Linked DNA regions of Homo sapiens. The protein of the gene in region 3 interacts with the protein of the main gene of each other region in a pairwise test. Each region holds a gene or a part of one and is shown on either strand. Other genes may lie near its edges.

What was found.
Region 1: the proteins of TSHZ3 (region 3) and TAX1BP1 interact in binary tests that used the Homo sapiens proteins (3 or more experiments, as listed by UniProt).
Region 2: the proteins of TSHZ3 (region 3) and SPAG5 interact in binary tests that used the Homo sapiens proteins (3 or more experiments, as listed by UniProt).
Region 4: the proteins of TSHZ3 (region 3) and CEP70 interact in binary tests that used the Homo sapiens proteins (3 or more experiments, as listed by UniProt).
Region 5: the proteins of TSHZ3 (region 3) and RINT1 interact in binary tests that used the Homo sapiens proteins (3 or more experiments, as listed by UniProt).
Region 6: the proteins of TSHZ3 (region 3) and CEP63 interact in binary tests that used the Homo sapiens proteins (3 or more experiments, as listed by UniProt).
Region 7: the proteins of TSHZ3 (region 3) and APEX2 interact in binary tests that used the Homo sapiens proteins (3 or more experiments, as listed by UniProt).

The regions. Positions count from the first base shown.
Region 1 is NC_000007.14:27,827,162-27,830,267, reverse strand, and holds the end of TAX1BP1 (tax1-binding protein 1), read right to left. Parts: intron 2,531-3,106; coding exon 2,448-2,530; intron 1,641-2,447; coding exon 1,439-1,640; 3' UTR 501-1,438; downstream 1-500.
Region 2 is NC_000017.11:28,589,026-28,592,525, reverse strand, and holds part of SPAG5 (sperm-associated antigen 5), read left to right. Parts: coding exon 1-544; intron 545-653; coding exon 654-828; intron 829-3,500. UniProt on the Homo sapiens protein: Essential component of the mitotic spindle required for normal chromosome segregation and progression into anaphase. Required for chromosome alignment, normal timing of sister chromatid segregation, and maintenance of spindle pole architecture.
Region 3 is NC_000019.10:31,279,937-31,283,436, reverse strand, and holds part of TSHZ3 (teashirt homolog 3), read left to right. Parts: intron 1-3,500. UniProt on the Homo sapiens protein: Transcriptional regulator involved in developmental processes. Functions in association with APBB1, SET and HDAC factors as a transcriptional repressor, that inhibits the expression of CASP4.
Region 4 is NC_000003.12:138,573,761-138,577,260, forward strand, and holds part of CEP70 (centrosomal protein of 70 kDa), read right to left. Parts: intron 1-3,500.
Region 5 is NC_000007.14:105,545,701-105,549,200, reverse strand, and holds part of RINT1 (RAD50-interacting protein 1), read right to left. Parts: intron 2,292-3,500; coding exon 2,118-2,291; intron 2,018-2,117; coding exon 1,868-2,017; intron 653-1,867; exon of another isoform or gene 648-652; coding exon 491-647; intron 373-490; exon of another isoform or gene 234-372; intron 1-233. UniProt on the Homo sapiens protein: Involved in regulation of membrane traffic between the Golgi and the endoplasmic reticulum (ER); the function is proposed to depend on its association in the NRZ complex which is believed to play a role in SNARE assembly at the ER.
Region 6 is NC_000003.12:134,548,557-134,552,056, reverse strand, and holds part of CEP63 (centrosomal protein of 63 kDa), read right to left. Parts: intron 2,996-3,500; coding exon 2,881-2,995; intron 1,995-2,880; coding exon 1,797-1,994; intron 132-1,796; coding exon 45-131; intron 1-44. UniProt on the Homo sapiens protein: Required for normal spindle assembly.
Region 7 is NC_000023.11:55,003,363-55,006,459, reverse strand, and holds part of APEX2 (DNA-(apurinic or apyrimidinic site) endonuclease 2), read right to left. Parts: intron 2,662-3,097; coding exon 2,592-2,661; intron 1-2,591. UniProt on the Homo sapiens protein: Functions as a weak apurinic/apyrimidinic (AP) endodeoxyribonuclease in the DNA base excision repair (BER) pathway of DNA lesions induced by oxidative and alkylating agents.

The DNA.
Region 1 (3,106 bases), on a different chromosome or scaffold from region 3:
CTCCAACAAAAATGCTCCCATTGTTGAACATATTTTACCTAAGTATATAACCTATCTGGAAGCTGAAAGTCTCCAAAGCTATTGCTTCCTAGGACTGCTGTGTCCTAACAGCTGGCATATGAATGCCTCATACTGGTTTGCCCTAGACTCAAAAAACTTTTTAAAGGATTCTAACAATATACAAACTCTGCTTCCACAAACAAATACAAGTGACGACATGATATGCTGCAGTTCACATATAGCAACTCAAAATGCCACCAAGTCTAAATATTAGGTTAACATCTTCAATAGCTAGTTTGCTCAGAACAAATGTAAACTATTTTGATGATAACTACAAAAGCGGCAAAATCAAAAGTTGGTGCTTTAAATTATTCACACGCACATTATAAAAGGGAAAGGGAATACAATTCAGAAGTATTTTAAAGGCCCAAACCAAAAAAAGATGTTCAAGATGCTAGATTAATGAAAAACTTTCACAAATAAATTTGACAACAATGAAATTACAGATCTTGAAAAATGTGTCCTCTTTCTTTAATGTTAGTGACAGTTCTATACAGCACAGACATAACTGAAGAAACACATTACTTTGATTTGGGTTTATGTATTGTACTTTTAATCACTTACTGAGAATATTTCAAATTTATATTCTCATCAGGAAAATGTAAAAAAGATACTGATATATATTCTATGATTTTTATGCCACAAACACCCCTGTTATGAGATCATTTAATAGGAAAACAATTATACTGACATCTCTTGTTCCATTTTCCCATTAGATATATACATACAACTTCAAGATAGTTTAAAAATAATCATTCAGGTTATTCTAAAATTTTGCCATAAAATTAGCAAAGTATGCCTTCTGTTAATTGCTAAAACCAATATTTCACATATAAAAGCATGTGATCTCATTCTACATGCAGCTCCATTTCTGAAAATTAAAAACCTATCATTTCATGGGCTAAATTATAGAACTTTCTATATTCGAAGAACTACTTCATAAGACTGTTATGACAAATGCTTTTTATTACATAATATTTAGTAGTCATGCTCAATCAACAAGGTCAACAGAAACTTGTGAATATTCTGCTAAATAATCTAGCACACTAATACATACACGTTTTTCAGTGCAGTAACATTGAAATAATCCTTGTATCCTTTATTCAGACAGTTCTGCAAACTAGGGAATAAATAAAGATACGAACACACAAGAACTTTTTTTTAAAGCAGGTAAGATTAACAGAGATTAAAATTTATTGATAAGCCAAAGACTGACCCTGATCCTAGTAACACCAAACTCAAAGTAGCTCCTGGTCAGAAAGTGCAGTAAAGGGTGCATGAAAGCATCCGCTCTATGGTCTCCTCAGTGGTCTATTTTAGGTGTGGTTTTTTTTTTTTTTTTTACTGCTAAACTATATTAACTCATAATAAAAAGTAACTAGTCAAAATTTAGAACATTCTGATCAAAATGGGTCTGCACATGCCTTTCAAACACCTGCTGGTCATAGTCAGGAGGGAACTGCTCGCTGCACATCGGGCACACCTTCCAGTGACTTTCAACATGTTCTTCAAATTTGCTCTGATCATAGTTAGGAGGAAACATTAACTCACAGAGGGGACACTTCTTGTGAACATCAAAGCTTAAAGAGAAAAATGAAAGAATTACATGTTTCTAATAAATGTAGAACAACAACTTGTCCATATATGACAAGGTTCCATTTATCTAGTTAGCTGATATTCATACTAAACAACCTACCTTAAAAGTCTTTACTCCAGAAACATTTCTCTGCTTCTAAATGCTTGCTGTAGACAATTGTGTAACCCATTTATAGAGCCTCTAAATTCAATTTTACAATTAGATTAACAAAACCGTTTTTCCCCCTTAAAACCTCCCAAATCCAATCACAATTACGTGAAATTAGTACCAAGAATTCTTCCACGTTTAACAGAAAATGCCTTTTGTAAGACTGTAAGGATAAATACAACTCATAACTTCCCACCAGTGCATTTGGTTTAATAGCAAAGTTTTTATGGCACTGGTTCTCAAATGCTTGTATGCATCAGAATCAGTCGGAGGACATGTTTTTGTTTTTGGCCAAAAATACTGTATTTTTAACCAGCAAGATCATTGGTGCATTATTATACAACATTAGGTGTTTTTTGCAAAACTAGTTCCCATCCCCAAACAACAGACAATACATGCATTTGAATGACATTTTAGGAACAGTAAATATTCTTTTAAATACTGCAAGTTAAAAATGTTTTCTGACAAAACTCCCTAAATCGGAGGACATGTTAAAACACATATTGCTGGGCCTACGCCTGGTGTTTCTGGTTCAGCTAGGCCAGGCCCTACACATGTGCATTTCTAATGAGTTCCCAAGGACCACCTTTGAGAACCACTGGCCGATATAACCCAAATTCTACAAAGTAAAGAAGAAAACTACCTGGAATCAAAGCAAAAGCCTGTCCCATGCCCACGTAAATGTTGACTTGGAGGATCAGGAGCAGTAGGCACATTCTCATCTTCCTAGGGGAAAAATAATTTTGGAACTTTTAAGAAAAGTAAAACCAAATATAAATTCCTTAATTCAATCAAGCACATACTGACAGTATAAAAGAAGATTACACTTCAGGAAATTTTCTCTCTGCTATCATTTAATTAGACTTTCAAATAAACATGTTTGAAACTTTGCAGAGTATTTCACTATAAACTAACACTGTGGTGTTCTTGAAATAAAAAGCAGTATTCAGAGGAATAGAGACATACCATTTACACATACCATTTACCATACCTGTATGTGTAAATGAAGCTGAGAACAGTAGACCTTTTCAAACCTATATACGTAGGTAACTTTTACTGACTTTATCATTCTGCAGACTGGGTGACCAGTTTTTTGCTTTTTTTTTTTTTGAGATGGAGTCATCACTCTGTCACCCAGGCTGGAGTGCAGTGGCGCGATCTCGGCTGACTGCAACCCCTGCCTCCTGGGTTCAAGCAATTCTTATGCCTCAGCCTCCTGAGTAGCTGGGATTATAGGTGTGCACCACCATGCCCAGCTAATTTTTGTATTTTTTAGTAGAGACAGGGTTTCACCATGTTAGC
Region 2 (3,500 bases), on a different chromosome or scaffold from region 3:
TCTTGCCTTCCTCTGTTCTCTGGCTTTCCCCTTCAACTGCCTTGGCAGCAGATTTCCGTGTCAATCATGTGGACCCAGAGGAGGAAATTGTAGAGCATGGAGCTATGGAGGAAAGAGAAATGAGGTTTCCCACACATCCTAAGGAGTCTGAAACAGAAGATCAAGCACTTGTCTCAAGTGTGGAAGATATTCTGTCCACATGCCTGACACCAAATCTAGTAGAAATGGAATCCCAAGAAGCTCCAGGCCCAGCAGTAGAAGATGTTGGTAGGATTCTTGGCTCTGATACAGAGTCTTGGATGTCCCCACTGGCCTGGCTGGAAAAAGGTGTAAATACCTCCGTCATGCTGGAAAATCTCCGCCAAAGCTTATCCCTTCCCTCGATGCTTCGGGATGCTGCAATTGGCACTACCCCTTTCTCTACTTGCTCGGTGGGGACTTGGTTTACTCCTTCAGCACCACAGGAAAAGAGTACAAACACATCCCAGACAGGCCTGGTTGGCACCAAGCACAGTACTTCTGAGACAGAGCAGCTCCTGTGTGGGTAAGCGCCCCTATGTCCTTGCACCTCGTGAGTTCCATTACCCTGGACCTTCCCCTCCCATCCCTTCCCCTCCTTTTCTTTTCGTCATGTTCTTCTCTTTCTGCTGCAGCCGGCCTCCAGATCTGACTGCCTTGTCTCGACATGACTTGGAAGATAACCTGCTGAGCTCTCTTGTCATTCTGGAGGTTCTCTCCCGCCAGCTTCGGGACTGGAAGAGCCAGCTGGCTGTCCCTCACCCAGAAACCCAGGACAGTAGCACACAGACTGACACATCTCACAGTGGGGTAAGAAGGTTCCTCTCAAAGCTTGAGGGATCCCAGTGGGGATCCTTGGAATTTAAGCTGAGAAGCTGCCAGAGGGCAAAGGGGACTCCTATCACAGGCTTATACTTAGAACATTTGCAAAAGCTGAGAATCTGGGCAGTCACAATGGCTGATGCCTGTAATCCCACTGCTTTGGGAGGCCAAGGTGGGAGGACTGCTTGAGGCCAGGCATTTGAAACCAGCTTGGGCAACACAGCGAGATCCCATCCCTACAAAAGATTTTTAAAAAATCAGCTGGATATGGTTTTGCATGCCTCACTACTCAGGAGGCTGAGGCAGGAGGATCATTTGAGCCCAGGAGGCTAAGGCTGCAGTGAGCTATGATCATGGGCAAGACAGTGAAACCCTGTCTCTTAAAACAAAAAAGCTGAGGATCTGGAAAATCCCCTTAAAGCTGTGGGTAGTCACTCTACCCCTGGGGTACATCAGAACTTTCCAAAGGAGTGCAAGCAAGGAAACTTTTAAAGGAATTGGTTTTTAGATCATCATCTTCCACAAGTATTCTTTTTCTTCGTTTTTTGCATTGGTAGACTATATTTAATATTTTAAGAAAAATTATGAATAAGCCTAAAACATTTTTTAAAATAATTTTTAATTTTTGTGGTTACAGAGTTAGGTAAATATATTCATGGAGTCCATGAGATGTTTTGATATAGGCATGTGATGGTCAATAATCACATCATGGAAAATGGAAAATGGAGTATCTGTATCTGTCCCCTCAAGCATTTATCCTTTGTGTTACAAGCAATCCAATTATACTTTTAGTTTTTTTTTTTTTTTTTTTTTTTTTGAGACGGAGTCTCACTCTGTCACCCAGGCTGGAGTGCAATGGCCTGGTCTCGGCTCACTGCAACCTCTGCCTCCCAGGTTCAAGCGATTCTCCTGCCTCAGCCTCCTGAGTAGCTGGGACTACAAGCGCATGCCACCCCACCCGGCTAATTTTTGTATTTTTAGTAGAGACAGGGTTTCACTATGTTGGCCAGGCTGGTCTCGAACTCCTGCCCTCATGATCCACCTGCCTCAGCCTCCCAAAGTGCTGGGATTACAGGCGTGAGCCACTGCGCCTGGCCCCTGTTGTTTATGTGAAGAAGATTTCTCAGTGTTTACATCTGTCAGAATGGAAAGGAGTCAGCTGGCATAGTGGCTCACCCCTGTAATCTCAGTACTTTGGGAGGGTGAGGTGGGAGGATCGCTTGAGCTCAGGAGTTCAAGACCAGCCTGAGAAGTATGGTGAAACCTCATCTCTACAAAAAAATACAAAAATTAGCTGGGTGTGGTGGTGTGTGCCTGTAGTCCCAGCTACTTGGAAGGCTGAGGTGGAGGATCACTTGAGGCTAGGAGTTCAAGGCTGCAGTGAACTGAGATCTTGACACTGCACTCCAGCCTGGGCAACAGAGCCAGACCCTGCCTCAAAAAACAGAGTCACGAATTGTTGCTGAACTATTTCTTATTGCTGGAATTATAGTAATCCACAGATATACGAACTAATAAGGGGAAGGAATCTCCATCGATTTCATTAATAGGTGATTCCCAATTAAATTTTGCCGAGCATGTTTATTTTATTAGAAATTATATTACAGTGACTAATATACAACTGATTAAAAGATTTCTCTATCCTAAAGAAAGCTTTTTCACTTTAAAGCCTTCCGGTCAAAGGAATTTAAAGGAAATTTTAATTTAAATTTAGATGAACTTTCATTGTTGTTGCAGAGATGATGGTTAATAACAGATTTTATTTTTATTTTTTGAGATAGTTTCTTGGTCTGTCACCCAGGCTAGAGTACCATGTTGCGATCAGGGCTCACTGAAGCCTCAGCTTCCTTGGCTCAGGTGATCCTCCCACCTCAGCCTCCTGGGTAGCTAGGACTGTAGGTGTATGCCACCACACCTACCTAATTTTTTTGTATTTTTAGTAGAGATGGGGTTTTGCTATGTTGGCCAGGCTGTTCTCAAACCCCTGGGCTCAAGTGATCTGCTAGCCTTTGCCTCCCAAAGCACTGGGATTACAGGTGTGAGCCACTGTGCCCAGCTAATAACATACTTTAAAGCATAAAAATATATTACATTAGGCTGAAATTCTGAGAAAAATAAAAAATATATGTTCAAAGAGAAAAAGGGATGACATAATAAAATTTCTGACTGCTAAGAAGAGCTTTTTCTTGTATTTTTAAAAGATAGCAACTAGGTATCTCATCATTTTGGTGTATGTAGTATTTATGCCACTGGATATATTTAAGAGTAATCTAATAATTTTATTTTAGGCTGGGCATGGTGGCTCATACCTGTAATCCCAACACTTTGGGAGGCCGAGGCGGGAGGATCACCTGAGGTCAGGAGTTCAAGACCAGCCTGGCCAACATGGCGAAACCCCGTCTTTACTAAAAATACAAAAATTAGCTGGGTGTGGTGGAGGGCACCTGTAATTCCAGCTACTTGGGAGGCTGAGGCATGAGAATCGCTTGAACCCGGGAGGCAGAGGTTGCAGTGAGCCAAGATCGCGCCACTGCACTCCAGCCTGGAGGATAGAGTAAGACTCTGTCTCAAAAAAAAAAAAAATTATTTTAAATTGTCAATATTGGTAATATGCTGGACATTACAGCCTTTGCAACAATTTAAACTTAAGGGTACTTAGT
Region 3 (3,500 bases):
AAAGTTCAGTAATCAAGAGTATAAATATTCTCAGAGTAGTGAAATTATTGCAAAGCATGGTGGAAGATGGGAATTTTCCCTTTATTTTTATGTATTTATTTTTGGAGATAGGATTTTGCTTTGTTGCCCAGGCTAGAGTGCAGTGGTGGGTCATGGCTCACTTGCACCCTCCACCTCCGGGTTCAAGTGATTCGCCTGCCTCAGCCTCTGGAGTAACTGGGACTGCAGGCATGTGCCACCATGTCTGGCTAATTTTTTTGTATTTTAGTAGAGATGGGGTTTTACCATGTTGCCGAAGGTGGTCTCAAACTCCTGAGCTCAGGCAGTCTGCCTGCCTTGGCCTCCCAAAGTGCTGGGATTACAGGAATGAGCCACTGCGCCCAGCCCTTCCCTTTATTTTAATGTGGAGGGGAGAACCAGTGGGTAAAAGTCTTAGGCTCCACCTAAGGAAATACTTCTCACCTTCAGATCGGAAAAGAAAATGGTCATTTGAACAGGGAGTGAGGCCCACGTCACAGCCACGAGGGTGTGCGCTTGAAAGAACCCTCAGAAACCATGACATGGTCAGGAGTGGGGTGTGCGGTGAGGCCAGGTCTCTCCAGGACCCAGTTCTGCTTGGCACCAGAGCCTTTTAATTCTCCTCTGAGTTGGATCTTGTTCCACCAGGGAGGTTGAGAGGTTGGCCTTTTCTTTCCATATTAATTTCCTCCTCAGTCATCAGACTGATGACATTCTGACCCTGCTGTGTAGTTTACAAAGCATATCAGAGCGTGTTGTGGGCCAGCCCAGGAGAGGAGCTGGTCATATCATTCATGGTGCATGTGTTGGGGAGGGGTGCTCCGGACGGCCTGGGCTGGTTTGGTGCTTGTGCAGTGGGGGTGGGGAAGGCTCTGGCCATGGGGAGATGCATTGCCCCTGGGTGGAATGTGGGCTGGCAGAGCCCCTGGGTTTCCCTCTCACCTGGTGGCCTTCACCCACAGAGGACTCTTTCATGTCCACTATTGGCTCTGCTGCTTCTGGCTGCTGGTGTCCTCTCGTAGTGGCTGCTGTGGGGCCATTTCTCTCTCAGACTTAATTTCATGGGAGCCACTGTAATAGGAGCAAAATCCCCAGGGTGTGGGGTTTGTATTGCAGACTGTGGCTCCAAGAGGCATCTCCAGGACAGAAGGGGCTTTGATATCTTCACCCATCTACACAGGCCTGGGCATTTCCTTGAGTCTCAGTGGGAGGGACACCAGCCATGGGATTTCCTCCTCTTTCCCCGTTTACAATAAAACCGTACTATGGAAACATCATATATGCATGCACCCGGTGCACTTCTGCAGACAGTGGGCTGTGTCTAGCTAAACCCAGCCTACTCTGCTCCAGCTGTTCCCCGAGAGGATTATAAGAGAGGTTGCAGACCCACCTGGATGCTCTGACCTCAGTCATACTGTGTGCCCCAGCTAGGGTAACAAGCCATCCTTCAGTTTGCATAAGACTGAGTAAATTCCCAGGATGCAAGACATTCAGTGCTGAAACCAGGACAGCTCCAGGCAAATTGGGACACTTGGTTATTCTACCTCGGCTGTTCTTCCTCCAGGCCTGCCACTCCATTGGAGTTTTGAGTCCAGATTTCTAGAATGTGCTGCATGCCGAGGAAGTCTGTCGGGGGGCAGGTGAGGGAGAGTGAGATGTCTTCTTTTCTTTTTCTTTTCCTATTCTTTTCCAACACATGCATTCACAGTCTTCACTGTGGCTAGCACAGGAGCCTCCATTGGCCAGCGCCGTATTTCCCTAAGCATTTGGTCTTGGCCCTAGGAACAGAGCTTTTGCTGTCTTTATTTGTCATCTCAAAGTGCATGGCCTTAAACTTGAGGTTCCCCACAGCACTTCACACTCAGCTGACTGCAGCAGGGCACTCTCTTCTGGTCATTTGTAAAGAACATCCATGGCTCCTGGACAAGACTCTTGCTTAGTAGTTGGCAAATGAGCAGAAGTATCCCCCTCCCTGCAGCTGATGTGTGTACCTGGGGCAGTTCCCATCCAAGTTCACATTACATCAGTGTTGGGATTCCATGTGTCTTGGCTTAGGAATCTTGGCACTCAAAGTAGGGGGCTTAGGAGCAAAAGAATCACACCTGTCCTGGAAGGAATGAGGGGGGCCTATCTGCTTGACTTCAAGGGACTCATTTCACTGTTTTTGTTTGTTTGTTTGTTTATTGTTGTTGTTGGTTTTCTGATGTGAAATGGAACAGGGGCAAATCTTTAAAGCTGGTGGAGTCAATTCCACAAACAAAACTTCCCTTCCTTTCTTAAGAGCTTTTTGTAGAAATCAGCCTTGCAATTAGCACTGCAACGTTCCAACCACTTAACACACTTCCCCACTGGCCTTTTGAAGCAAACAAGTATTTAGAAGCTGACAGGACAAAGTCACTTTATTTCTCCTTTTCCTTTACCTTGAAATTGTTCCTAGCCACAGGGCTGGCCACTCCTCACTGTCCAAAAAACTACCCTGATGCAGTATGCAGTGGCAGATCAGTTTAGTAAGGAATAACCCAAGTCACCGAATGCAAGAGAATGAAAACAAAAACAAAAACAAAAAAAACACCCTGTTGCATTAACGCAAGTATTCTCTGGGCTCTGTGTCTCTGGACGTGCATCTTCCAGAACCTGCAGGCGCGTGGCCTGCCCTCCACCTGCGTGGGAATGCATGCTGGATTTACATCCCAGTTACATCGCTTCCAGAAAGACAGGATCTCTGTTGGATGCCCATGAAGCTTATACTGAGTAAATATTGACAAAGTAGTCTAAAGAGCAAACACTTTGACATTTGTAAGGTCCACTGGAAGGTCTTGTATATATTTATACATCAGGAATGAGCACCGCATACCAATTTTCCTGAACTTGTTGTGACATAATTCTGCATGGAGAGTGTGTGTGCACAGGTGGCTGAGAACGGCTGAGTGTTCACATGGGGGACAGGGCTGGGGGCTGGGTGGTAGCTGGTCAGGGTATTTCCTCTCAACTGGAACGAACCCACACCTATCCCTGCCAGGAAACCTACCTCTAAGCTTTTCTGAGACCTGCTTTTCCAGAAGGAAGAAAGAAAAAAAAAAAGCCACAAAATCTTGTTTTTCCCTTATTACAATGGACGTACTTTTCTTTTTACTTGGTAAAAATTTTATTGATGTTTTTATACTTTATATTTATTAAAGATTGAGCCTCAAAAATGTAATGAGTAAAAAATGCTTGCTTAATTTAAATTGTGAATCTGTCTGTTAAGAAATGCATTAGGGGTAGGAGAAGCATAAGACATATTAATTGACAGACAGGAACTGCTGTCTCTGAGGTTGATACAAGTAATTTATTACTTTAGAAATGAATGCCACCTCCAGAATGTGCTTCATTAATTTCAAATTTAGTTTTAATTTCAAGCTGTTGCCCCTTGAGAAGAATAAGGTGGCAAATTATGTTTGAAGAGCAGATTTTTTTTTTTTTTTGCTCCAAAGAAACACCAC
Region 4 (3,500 bases), on a different chromosome or scaffold from region 3:
GGTAAATGGAGTAACAGTGTTCTAAGTTTGTTTACAATGGAGGTGGACACTGGTAAAGGTATCTGTTAACACTGGGCTTTTGTATAAGTTAAGGATGCTTGAGAATTTCTAGGACATCCACTGAAGAACTGAACAGAAGTATATAATTTTCTAACTAGTAAAGGGGAAAAACAAGACTATAATGATGCATTTTTAAAAATAAACCCAAGGGCATCCAAGATGGCCAAATATGAAAGGCTTCAGTCTGCAGCTCCCAGTGTGACTGATGCAGAAGACAGGTGATTTCTGCGTTTCCAACTGAGGTACCTGGTTCATCTCGTTGGGACTGGTTGGACAGTGGGTGCAGCCCACAAAGGGCGAGCCGAAGCAGGGTGGGGCATTGCCTCACCCAGGAAGTGCAAGAGTAGGGAGATTACCCATTCCTAGCCAAAGGAAGCCGTGACAGACTGTACCAGGAAAATCCAGACACTGCTACCCAAACACTGCGCTTTTCCAATGGTCTCAGCAAGTGGCACACCAGGAGATTATATCCCATGCCTGGCTCAGTGGGTCCCATGCCCATGGAGCCTTGCTCACTGCTAGCGCAGCAGTCCAAGATTGAACTGCAAGGTGGCAGCCTGGCTGAGGGAGGGGCATCTGCCATTGCTGAGGCTTGAGTAGGTAAACAAAGCGGCAGGAAAGCTTGAACTGGGTAGAGCCCACCGCAGCTCAAAGAGGCCTGCCTGCCTCTGTAGACTCCACCTCTGGGGGCAGGGCATAGCTGAACAAAAGGCAGCAGAAACTTCTGCAGACTTAAATGTCCCTGTCTGACAGCTCTGAAGACAGCAGTGGTTCTCCCAGCATGGTGTTTGAGCTCTGAGAACGGACAGACTGCCTACTCAAGTGGGTCCCTGACCTCCGTGTAGCCTAACTGGGAGACACCTCCCAGTAGGGCCCGACTGACACCTCATACAGCCAGGTGCCCCTCTGAGATGAAGATTTCAGAGGAAAGATCAGGCAGCAATATTTGCTGTTCTGCAGCCTCTGCTGGCGATACCCAGGCAAACAGGGTCTGGAGTGGACCTCCAGCAAACTCCCACAGACCTGCAGCTGAGGGACCTAACTGTTAGAAGGAAAACTAACAAACAGAAAGGAAAAGCATCAACATTAACAAAAAGGACATCCACACCAAAACCCTATCTGTAGGTCACCATCATCAAAGACCAAAGGAAGATAAAACTACAAAGATGGGGAGAAACCAGAGCAGAAAAGCTGAAAATTCCAAAAATCAAAGCGCCTCTTCTCCTCCAAAGGATCGCAGCTCCTCACTAGCAACAGAACAAAGCTGGATGGAGAATGACTTTGACGAGTTGACAGAAGTAGGCTTCAGAAGGTCGGTAATAACAAACTTCTCCAAGCTAAAGGAGGATGTTCAAACCCATCACAAGGAAGCTAAAAACCTTGAAAAAAGATTAGATGAATAGCTTACTAGAATAAACAGTGTAAAGAAGACCTTAAATGACCGGATGGAGCTGAAAACCATGGCACGAGAACTATGTGACACATGCACAAGCTTCAGTAGCTGATTTGATCAAGTGGCAGAAAGGGTATCAGTGATTGAAGATCAAATTAATGAAATGAAGCGAGAAGAGAAGTTTAGAGAAAAAAGTAAAAAGGAATGAACAAAGCCTCCAAGAAATATGGGACTATGTGAAAAGACCAAATCTATGTCTGTTTGGTGTACCCAAAAGTGATGGGGGGAATGGAACCAAGCTGGAAAACACTCCTCAGGATATTATCCAGGAGAACTTCCCCAACCTAGCAAGACAGGCCAACATTCAAATTCAGGAAATACAGAGAACACCACAAAGATACTCCTCGAGAAGAGCAACCCTAGGACACATAAGTGTCAGATTCACCAAGGTTGAAATGAAGGAAAAAATGTTAAGGGCAGCCAGAGAGAAAGCTCGGGTTACCCACAAAGGGAAGCCCATCAGACTAACAGCAGATCTCTTGGCCGAAACCCTACAAGCCAGAAGAGAGTGGGGGCCAATATTCAACATTCTTAAAGAAAAGAATTTTCAGTCCAGAATTTCATATCCAGCCAAACTAAGCTTCATAAATGAAGGAGAAATAAAATCCTTTACAGACAAGCAAATGCAAAGAGATTGTGTCACCACCAGGCCTGCCTTACAAGAGCTCCTGAAGGAAGCACTAAACATGGAAAGGAACAACCAGTACCAGCCACTGCAAAAACATGCCAAATTGTAAAGACCATCAATGCTAGGAAGAAATTGCATCAACTAATGGGCAAAATAACCAACTAACATCATAATGACAGGATCAGATTCACACATAACAATATTAACCTTAAATGTAAATGGGCTAAATGCCCCAATTAAAAGACACAGACTGGCAAATCGGATAAAGAGTCAAGACCCATCAGTGTGCTGTATTCAGGAGACCCATCTCATGTGCAGAGACACACATAGGCTCAAAATAAAGGGATGGAGGAAGATCTACCAAGCAAATGGAAAGCAAAAAAAAGCAGGGGTTGCAATCCTAGTCTCTGATAAAACAGACTTTAAACCAGCAAAGATCAAAAGAGATAAAGAAGACCATTACATAATGGTAAAGGGATCAATTCAACAAGAAGAGCTAACTATCCTAAATATACACGCACCCAATACAGGAGCACCCAGATTCATAAAGCAAGTCCTTAGAGACCTACAAAGAGACTTAGACTCCCACACAATAATAATAGGAGACTTTAACACCCTACTGTCAATATGAGACAGATCAACAAGACAGAAGGTTAACAAGGATATCCAGGACTTGAACTCAGCTCTGCACCAAGCAGACCTAATAGACATCTACAGAACTCTCCACCCCAAATCAATAGAATATACATTCTTCTCAGCACCACATCACACTTATTCAAAAATTGACCACTTAGTTGGAAGTAAAGCACTCCTCAGCAAATGTAAAACAACAGAAATCACAACAAACTGTCTCTCAGACCACAGTGCAGTCAAATTAGAACTCAGGATTAAGAAACTCACTCAAAACCGCACAACTACATGGAAACTGAACAACCTGCTCCTGAATGACTACTGTGTAAATAACAAAATGAAGGCAGAAATAAAGATGTTCTTTGAAACCAATGAGAACAAAGACACAACATACCAGAATCTTGGAACCAACCCAAATGTCCATCAATGATAGACTGGATTAAGAAAATGTGGCACATATACACCATGGAATACTATGCAGCCATTAAAAAGAATGAGTTCATGTCCTTTGTAGGGACATGGATAAAGCTGGAAACCATCATTCTGAGCAAACTATCGCAAGGATAGAAAACCAAACACTGCATGTTCTCACTCATAGGTGGGAACTGAACAATGAGAACACTTGGACACAGGAAGGGGAACATCACACACCAGGGCCTGTCGTGGGGTGGGGGGATGGGGGAGGGATAGCATTAGGAGAAGTACCTAATGTAAACGACGAGTTAATGG
Region 5 (3,500 bases), on a different chromosome or scaffold from region 3:
AGCCTGACCAATATGGTGAAACCCATCTCTACTAAAATTACAAAAATTAGTCCAGTGTGGTGACATGTGCCTGTAGTCCCAGCTACTTGGGAGGCTGAGGCAGGAGAATCGCTTGAACCTGGGAGGTGGAGGTTGCAGTGAGCAGAGATTGTGCCACTGCACTCCAGCCTGGGTGACAGAGCGAGACTCCAACTCACAAAAAAAAAAAAAGAAAAGAAATACCAAGTGCTTACTATTTGCTTTGCTTTGTTTTGCAATGATAACTCAGCAATATCTGATGCCCAAGAGCGGAAATACCATTTTTCCTACAGTATATGAACACAAGTCCTCAATTATATGTATGAACAGCAGTAACAAAACAGGAATGTAGCCCTTTAGAAAAAAAACAGAAATGTGAAGAGAGTCAGATTTTAACTTAAACCAGCAAAGGTATAGAAACTCTAACATTTGTTACCAATAAAAACCAAGGACAAGAGCTGGCAAAACACACCTTGCTTAACACATTAGTCTGCCGGTTCCCTCTGAAGTGATACCTGAACCTCTTCTGAAGAGGAGTCAGCATAACCTGGATGGGCAGGATGACAGAAGGGGAGGCAGGAAGAGAGTATTTTTCTGGGAGTTGCTTTGGCTCAGTAAGTAATTCATCTCTGACATAATCAAGTCAAGGAAAAAGAATCAAAAGCATACCTAATATACACACACATATGTATGTATACACACACAATAAATTTTTCCAACAAATGTATCAGATACTCAGTAGAGTTAATTATGATGCAAATAATATGTAACCTAATTTTATATTGAATAAACATACAGTTAATTCTTTATATTGAATATACATTCAGTTAAAATGCACAAAAAGCCAGGCATGATGATAGTGAATCATGCCTGTAATCCCAGCACTTTGGGAGGCTGAAGCAGGCTAATCACTTGGGCCACTTCACAGGAATTTGAGACGTGCCTAGGCAATACGGCAAAACCCTATCTCTACAAAAAACAACAAAAATTAGCGGGGCATGGTGGCACGTGCCTGTAGTCCCAGCTACACAGGAAGAAGAGGTGGGAGAATCAACTGAGCCTGGGTGGTCAAGGCTGCAGTGAGCCATGACTGCACCACTGCACTTCAGCCTGGGTGACAAAGTGAGACCATGTCTTTAAAAAAAGCACAAAAATGAGCCAGGTGCAGTGGCTCTCACCTGTAATCCCAGCACTTTGGGAAGCTGAGGCGGGTGGATCACCTGAGGTCAGGAGTTCGAGGCCAGCCTGACCAACATGGAAAAACCCCGTCTCTACTAAAAATACAAAATTAGCTGGGCATAGTGGTGCACGCCTGTAATCCCAGCTACTCGGGAGGCTGAGGCAGGAGAATCGCTTGAACCCGGGAGGTGGAGGCTGTGGTGAGCCGAGATCATGAGATCACGCCACTTCATTCCAGCCTGGGCAACAAGAGCGAAACTCCATCTCAAAAAAAAAAAAAAAAAAGCACAAAAATGGTATTAGAATTAATCTATAAATCTTTCCTAAAATAGTAACAAAAAAAATTCAAGTATCATTTGATTAAATTCACGCTATGACACTAAAGGTTTCCTCCCAATTGCCCATTTGTTCTGTTGCCCCAAGAGACCTTTTTGTGCTATGAACTTGGATCAGTCATGTATCCCGGAACTCTTCCTTACAGCCCTCACACCTACAAGCAATTCACTTTGCAAGAGTACAGTCCACCACTCAGTGGACATTTACAGACCAAGTCCAAACACAGGATTCTTATTTGGCTTTCTTGGCCACTTTGAAAAAGTTTTACTCTCTAGCCACAAACCCATTCTAGAAAAAAGAAATTTTAGTAAGTTTTCAGCTGCAACAAAGATACGAGGTTTGTAGTTTCAAAAGCTGACAAAACAGTGTCTCCAGGTAACTGTATATCTCCGGGGCACTGGCAGGTCGACTTAAGCCAACAGTTTGTGATTGAGGGGGTGCGATGAATGGCCAATGAAGCTGTGCTAAAATTTCCTCAAAATCACTGCAATGGAAAAGTAACACATACATTTCAGTACATCACCAAATGATCACCAAATACCCATCGGAAAGCAATTACCACAAAATATGGGTAAATTCCCTACCTTGTAAGCTTGTCCTTGAGAATTTTATGCCAGAATTTAACTGTGGCTCTCATGAAACCAAGAAGATGAGTACAAGATGATTCCTGAAGTTTAATGTCAAGTTCTGCCATAGACACTAGAGTGGAGGCTGCCTCCGGTACATTATTGGTCATCAGATATTGCTGAATGTTATCACTGTAAACAAAGTAAAGCAAATTTTTTTTTCTTTTGAGACAGAGTCTCACTCTGTTGCCCAGGTTGGAGTGCAGTGGCATGATTTGGCTCAATGCAAATTCTGTGTCCCAGGTTCAAGTGATTCTCCCGCCTCAGCCTCCACAGTAGCTGGGATTACAGGCATGCGCCCCCATGCCTGGCTAAATTTTTTGTATTTTTAGTAGAGACAGGGTTTCACCATGTTGGCCAAGCTGGTCTTGAACTCCTGACCTCAAGTGATCCGACCGCCTCGGCCTCCCAAAGTGCTGGGATTAGAGGCGTGAGTCACCGTGCCCAGCCGAAAGCAAATTTAAAGAACGGATTGCTCAGAATAATTTCAAATTCGGAAAAAGTGCTTCTTCTTCATGTTTTATATAAAGTTACATCCAAGGAAGAATGAAGCACCACCCTGAGGTAGCCTTTGTTTTTTAACAAAGCACCACCCTGAGGCCTTTTACCAAGGCCTCTCTGGGAGCCTAGAGTCCTCTACTTCTGCATTCTTCTAAGAGCAGCAGCCTGCAGCCTATGTTCAAGACCTCTCCCGGGACCTTTCCCTTCCTACTCCTCCTGACAGACCTGTTTTGTGTCATATTCCTTTGGGCACCACTCATTTCTGATAAATCTGCCTTTTACAAAGTCTTCAGTATCTTAATCCAAGGGAATAATGTGGTAGTATCTGGTAAAGTCAAGTATGATGGTCTTCAATTGTTACATACTTTGCCCAGCTGAACTTGATTTCCCACTTCAAAGAAATATAATTCCAGGCGGGGCTTGGTGGCTCAACCCTGTAATCCCAGCACTTTGGGAGGCCAACATGGGTGGATCTCCGGAGGTCAGGAGTTTGAGACCAGCCTGGCCAACTTGGTGAAACGCCCCCCGCCCCCCCTTCCCCATCCCCCATCTCTACTAAAAATATAAAAACTAGCCAGGCATGGTGGTGGGCACCTGTAATCCCAGCTACTCGGGAGGCTGAGGCAGGAGAACTGCTTGAACCCGGGAGGCGGAGGTTGCAGTGAGCCAAGATCATGCCACTGCACTCTAGCCTGGCAACAGAGTGAGACTCCGTCTCAAAGAAAAAGAGGCCAGGCGTGGTGGCCTCTTTGGGAGGCCAACATGGGTGGATCACCGGAGGTCAGGAGTTCGAGACCAGCCTGGCCAACTTGGTGAAACCCTTCCCGTCTCTACTAAAAA
Region 6 (3,500 bases), on a different chromosome or scaffold from region 3:
TGAAGGCTTGGATAGTAGAAAAACTTAAGTTTCTATTTATGTACCTCATGTAAACCCAATTCCAATTTCATCACCATTTCAGAAAGATGACGATTTTCTAATTTGAGTGACTCCAGCTGATCCAAAATCTCCTGAAAAGGGGAAAACAGAAAAAAATAAATATAACATGTAAATCACATGCATCTTACAAAATTTTTCCACATGGAATTTTCATTAGGCTAAGTCATATTCTTCATTTATATATATATACATATACATATTTATATATATATATACATATATATATGTACGTGTGTGTGTGTATATATATATATATATATATATATATATATGGACTTTCTAAAAAGATTTTTAAGATGTTATTAAGGTGAATGAACATGAATGGGATGAAGATATCATTCTAATAGGATAAATCAGGTGACAAAGCAGCAAAGTTTCAATCCACTGAACCCCTTAAATCCCTACCCATTCTCCTGTGCTGGCCTCCTCCAATTTGGCTTCTACCTGCAACGTCACATGGAATTGTACTTTATTCACAAAATAACAACTTATATTCAGTTCTCATTCCCCTCAGCTTTTGTGCTTGACCATTCCCATTTGAAAATATTCCTTCTTTCCTTGGCTTGGCAAAAACTATCTGATTTCCCTCCTCACTGCTCCTTTTTTTAAGCTTCATTCCAACATCTTTTTTACACTAAATGAGAAGTATCCTAAGTTTGGTTTGAGTCACTTCTCTTCTTACGCTATGCTTTCTCACTATAATCATTAAGTCTCTCAGGGGGTTTCAAATGTCACCATGAAGAAAGGACAGCCACAGCTAAATGCCTAATCCTGATTTTAATCTTCAACTCCAGGCCTTCTGTGGAATTGACTATTACCCATACAAAATTCCAGCCTTTATTCCAAACAAATGTGTCAAACCAATGTCCTCTCCACCAGTTTCCCCAGTCTGTGTACTTTTCACACAAATTCATCATCCTTCACCAAACTTGCTCCCTGTCTTTTCTCTATTTCATTAAAAAGCATCACTTTCCATCAGTTGCCTAAGTTTAAATCCTGTGGAGCACCATTCCTTAACTCTGCCTACCTCACCTTCCCTGCCAATCAAATACAATGCCCAGTCATTTTTACCAGCCCAGTATCTCCAGAATTCATCCATTTCCCTCTGCCTCCCTTGCCCACTGCTCAGGCCACCATCTTACCACTGTAACAGCATCTGGGTGCTCTGTCTCCCTGCTTATTCTCCATTTAAGGACCACTGAATTTTACTCCTGCTTGCAGCCATTCCCTACTGACCTCAAGGTCACAGTATAACTCCTTTACGTGGCTAACGTAGCCCTTCAGCAGCCAGTCCCTGCTTTCCAGTCTCATACCTTCCACTCATCCCACTTGTACTCTAGTTTCAACCACAGCAAGCGTGTTTCTACTCTCTCTTAGAGACCTCTGTATTTTCCTGTGCCTGAAACACTTTTCCTCCCCATCACCCAGCTTGCTCCTAACTTAGCTTTGCTATCACACCTTCTGGAAGGCCTTTGCAGCGAGTGGTCTAGATTCAGGCTGCTTGTGATCTCTAGTGACTCTCACCATACACCACTGATACAGTCACTTTACTTGTCTGTGTCTACTCTCACCTCCCCACCATGCTCACTAAACTCTTTGCTAGCCAGCATACTCTCAGCTCAAAGCAGGTATCTAATAAAAATTCACTGAATTAAATATTATGAAAATTATGTCTTTAATCAACTCCATCTTTAAAACAAATTTCAAATTTAAAAAAGGTTTTGTTCAGGCTTCACCTTATGCTCTACTGCTTTGTCTTCTGCCTTTTGCATCTCTGCTCTGAGTCGCTTTTCCATGTCTGAGGAAGAACCTTTGGTGGAAGCAATAGTGATATCTCGCTGATGTAACTCCTGAGTTAGATGGGAGATTTCCATCTTCATTCCTTCTAGTGCAGAACTGTAACTTTGTTCACCCTGTAAAATCTGTTCTTTCAACTATAAAGAAGCAGAAAAGAAAGCACCAAAAGTTAAGAGAAAGCATTTAGATAGAATAATATGTTACTAGCTAATAAAATAAAAGTTCACCTTATCTCAAGACATTAAATTTCTCTTAAATTAAATCTGCAGAAAAATTAGCAATTTACCAAGTTGCATATCTGTACTGAAGGTCAGGTGGTTATACCTACAATCATTTATTATACCTCAAAACAGGGAGAGATGGGTTATTCAAGTGCTGAGGACCAGAATCAAGGTCCATGCACACAATTTAGAGGAGAGTACTTGTGACCTTCATTCTTTTTTTTAGTTGTGAATCTAAAAGTTTTGCTCATATGGTATCTTAGTCCACAGGATAACAAATAGAACAAGAGGAAGTAAGGAACTAGAAGTAATCTTAAAGAAGTAACAAAAAATACAAATCAAACAAATAGGACAGTTAGGGCCCATTCATATAGACACAAACAGCTCTGCATACCTCAATAGCTGACAAGGATACTAACTACATCATAGCACAGGAGACAATACATAAATACTATCTTTAGGCAATAAGAAAATATTAAGTGACAGTTCATATTTTTTTGCAAGCAACAGAGTGTATGTCTTTTAGAAAACTTTTCATCAAAACATGTTTAAAATAAAGTTTTTGAGTTCAAAGGGGACAGCCTTCAATTATCTTAAAAATATTTATTGGGCATCAGGGGCGATGCCAAAGAAAGAAGGCACTTTCCCTATGCACATTCCACAAACTCTTCCACTCCTAAATATCAAGTGGTCCCTTGAACTACATTTTTTTCTCATTAAAAATAACCCCTATAATCTCCCAATCCACAGCTTTGTCCATAAACACATACAATTTTGCAATCCTAGGTATGCAGATTTTTACCTTCTTAATCTCTGCTTTGTATTCATTGTTATGTGCTTCCATCCTCTTCAGTTCTTCATATTTTTCCATTAGTTCTTGGCTCAGCTGTTTACACGTTGCACTCACAGATTCCAAACTGTATGACAAAAATAAGATCCCATACTTAAAACCAAAATCCTGAAACCTATAAATTGGACTATCTAATTTACATTCTTGATATCCAAAAAATATCCAGCCAATATCTTAAACATCACCTCAGTCATTTAAAATATTACTAAAAAGCCAATCAATAAAAAAACTGTGATAAAAATGTAAACTGTTGTCCCAACGTCAAAAATAATAAACTTAATTTTAGTCAAACGGAAGAGTACACATATACTTCAATAATAACAAAGACTATCTCAAGTACTCCAAGTATTCCAAAAGGAATAAAGCAGAAAATATGTGTGTGTATGCATGTTTGTGTATTTAACATGTAGATAAAAGTAAGAAAATACTTACTGGTTTCCAAAACCAGAAATAAATGTAAAAACAAAAAATGTATTACTTAAAGATAACCTAAAAAGTGTAAAATGATATTTCTCTTGTTGTTTGCCTAAAGGTTAACAGTTCATGTTAAAAGCAATTTTATCTTTTACATA
Region 7 (3,097 bases), on a different chromosome or scaffold from region 3:
GGAAGGGACTTAGACTAACTGCTGCATTTTGCAAATAAGAAAATTTGGTTGTCCCAAGAGGACTACTGCTCAAGGTCACACAGTCCGGAATTGGCAGAGCTGGGATTCTGATTTTCATCCTTACTGATTTAAAAGACCATGCTTGTTTTTCCCTCTGCACGAGCTTGCATTTGTCTTGCATTGGTCCGTCAATGGCAAATCTGAAAGTTTGCTTACTCAAAGCAATTCCTGGAACTGCTTTTCAAAAGGATGGAAAACAGGAAGTTAAAAGTGTTTGCCTCTAGGAAGCAGGGCTGGGGTTAAGAGTTAGGAAGACTGTCAGCTTCTTCCTTTAAACCCTCTGGCACTATTTGGTTTATCTAGTGTGTCAAAGCCCTCAATGACCATTCCTACCTCCTGAGCTGAGGACCTGCAAGGATCCAGGTCTGAATACTTCCTTAGGCTCTGATCCCCAATCCATCATCCATCAGTCCATCCATTCAATCCACCTACCCACCCACTCATTCAATGCAAGAAATGTTCATGGAATACCTATTATGTGCCATGCATGATGCCAGGGACAAAGTAGGAACCTGATCTACTCCTGGGGACCAAGGAGGCTTCCTTTCGAGAAGTGATCTGGAGCTGAGGTGTGGGGGCTGAGTAAGAGTAACCTAGGTGGAGGGTGCTCCTAACTTTAAGAACAGTCTCTGTGCTGGGCCTGTGGAGGGAGTGTGCTGCGTACCCAAAAGACTTGAGGAAAGACCAGACTGGAGACCAGAATACCAGCAGGAAATGGCTGCCATAGTCACACAAGCAAGATGATGGTCACTTGGACTAGGGTGGGTGCCAGAGGAGACAGAAACATGAAATTATGAGATGATTTGTAGCTAGAATCAACAGTACTTGCTGACTAACTGAATGTGGGAAGTGGAGTAAGAAAGAAAGACAATACTAGCACAATTCCCAGGCTTTAAGTTGAAGCAATCAAGGGGATGATGGTGCCATTTACAGAAATGACAAGACTAAAAGAGCAAGCCTGGTAGAAAGTGGGTATGTTCTGCTATTTTGGAAAGACTGTGTAAGTCATCTGAGCTGGCACTATTAGTTCTCTTTTCCTGGAGGAGAAAATGAAAGAGGTATACATAAGAGATCTAGGATACCTCTGAACTAAGTAGAAAAGGCACAAAGATGTATGATGCTATCACAGGAATCTGAAAGAACACACTGAATGAATGCATAAGAGGAATGAGGCAGGGAGGGACTGAAGGCTCACACTTTGTAGCATTATCTCCGCTCCCCACCACACCACCACCACCATTCTCTCATTCTCTCACTTCTGCTCATTTTCCCAGCTGGGAGCCATATCTACATTTATGTAGCTCTTCTGTGAATTAATCAAGGAATATTCCCACGGTCCCTTCTCTAAGCCAAGCCCAGTGCTGAGTAGGACTGTACCAGCATAAATCACTGATCCCCCATCGTGAGACATAAGGCAAGAAAAGATGAGAGCTGGCTTGTGGATTCTAGGGCAGTGGTTCTCAAGCCTGGCTGCACAATAAAGTCACACTGGGGGCTTTTAGAACGTGCCACTACCCTGGCCCCACACTCGAGAGTTCTGAGTTCATTGATCTGGAGTAGTGCTAAGATATTGATATTTTTGTTCTAATATGCAGTTAGGGGCTGAAAACCATGGGCCTAGGGGAACTTAGAGATAAGAGGTTCATATAACAAAAAGACAGGGAGGGGGTCATGTCCACCAATTCAGGGCACAGTGAGAAAAGCCAGAATGAGAATAACTTTTACAACGGGCCGACAGGAGACAACCTGTCTAGAGAGGACAAAATGTGTAGGGACACTGAAGGTGGAAATAAGAGACAGGTCACAGACCAAGGAGAGCCTTGAATGCTAGGTCTCCATGTTTTCTCTGCATCACAGAGGTAACAGGGAGGTACTGAAAGTTCATAAACAAGAAATACAGTGTATTAAGGAAATGACCAAGGCAATGTGGAATTCACAGTCCTTGAAATCTGACCCCCAACAACTCTCCAGCCCCACCTTCTGCCACTCACCTCCCTTCCTGTGTCACTAAGAAGAAAGGGACTTGTGGTTCCCCATGCACACAATGCAAATTCTCACCTTGAAACCTTTGCCCATGCTAGAATGCTTTCTACTTCAAAGCTCTGTTCTACTCATCTGTTAAGATTCAGCCATTTTCAGCTGCCTGTCCTGATGTCCGAGCTCACCTAGGAATCCCATCTCTGAGCTCCTGTAGCTTTCTGGGATGCCATCTGTGCCTCTGCCCTGAGAATACCATCCTATAATTGGCTAGCCATGTGTCTGTAGCCCACCACCATGCTGGAGAGCTCCTAGGAGCCAAGGGCTGGATCTGACTCCTGAGTCCTCAGTATGTGGCTCAGGGCCAGGCCATGGGCAGAGTCAGTATTGTCTATTGAATGAATGACCAATCCTCAGTACTATAAGAATAGTATTGCAAGCCAAGCTCCGCTTTCCCATAAAGGAAGCTGTCCCTGGGCCAAAAACTCAGGGTTGGTTGGCTGGACAAACAGAATCAGTCAGGAGTGGGGCCAGGCACCTAGAGGGAGCCTTACCAGGTTGACTGCATCCCAGTGGTCAATGGGGCGGTGGGCTGTATTCAGGTCACCCAGAATGATCACATGGCTGAAAAACACAATGTGGGATTGTTAGAAAGGGGTGCAGCAGTCCTGGCCCATATACTTTTTCCTGGGCCCAAGAGCTCAGACAGGCCCTCTCCCATATTGAGGCTTCCTAGCCAACAGCAACTCATAACAGCCTACCTCTCCAATCTTACCACAAACTTGCTGCCTTTCATATCTGACCAACCCAATTCTGATCTCCAAAGGTGACAGTGTTCCATGTTTGACATGACTGCCTCACTAATCAGGAGCCAATGGGCATTTTTCTTGTCCTTCAAAGCTGAGCTCAGATACCACCTCCCCTTGATTGCTCTAACCCACCCTCACTTTCCTGTCCTCCGCTGGAACAAGACTTTCCTTTGCTCCCACGCACTTTACCATTCTCATCTCATTTTACCCTTAAAACTATTGTGTAGGGTAGAGATTCATATATTCATTTG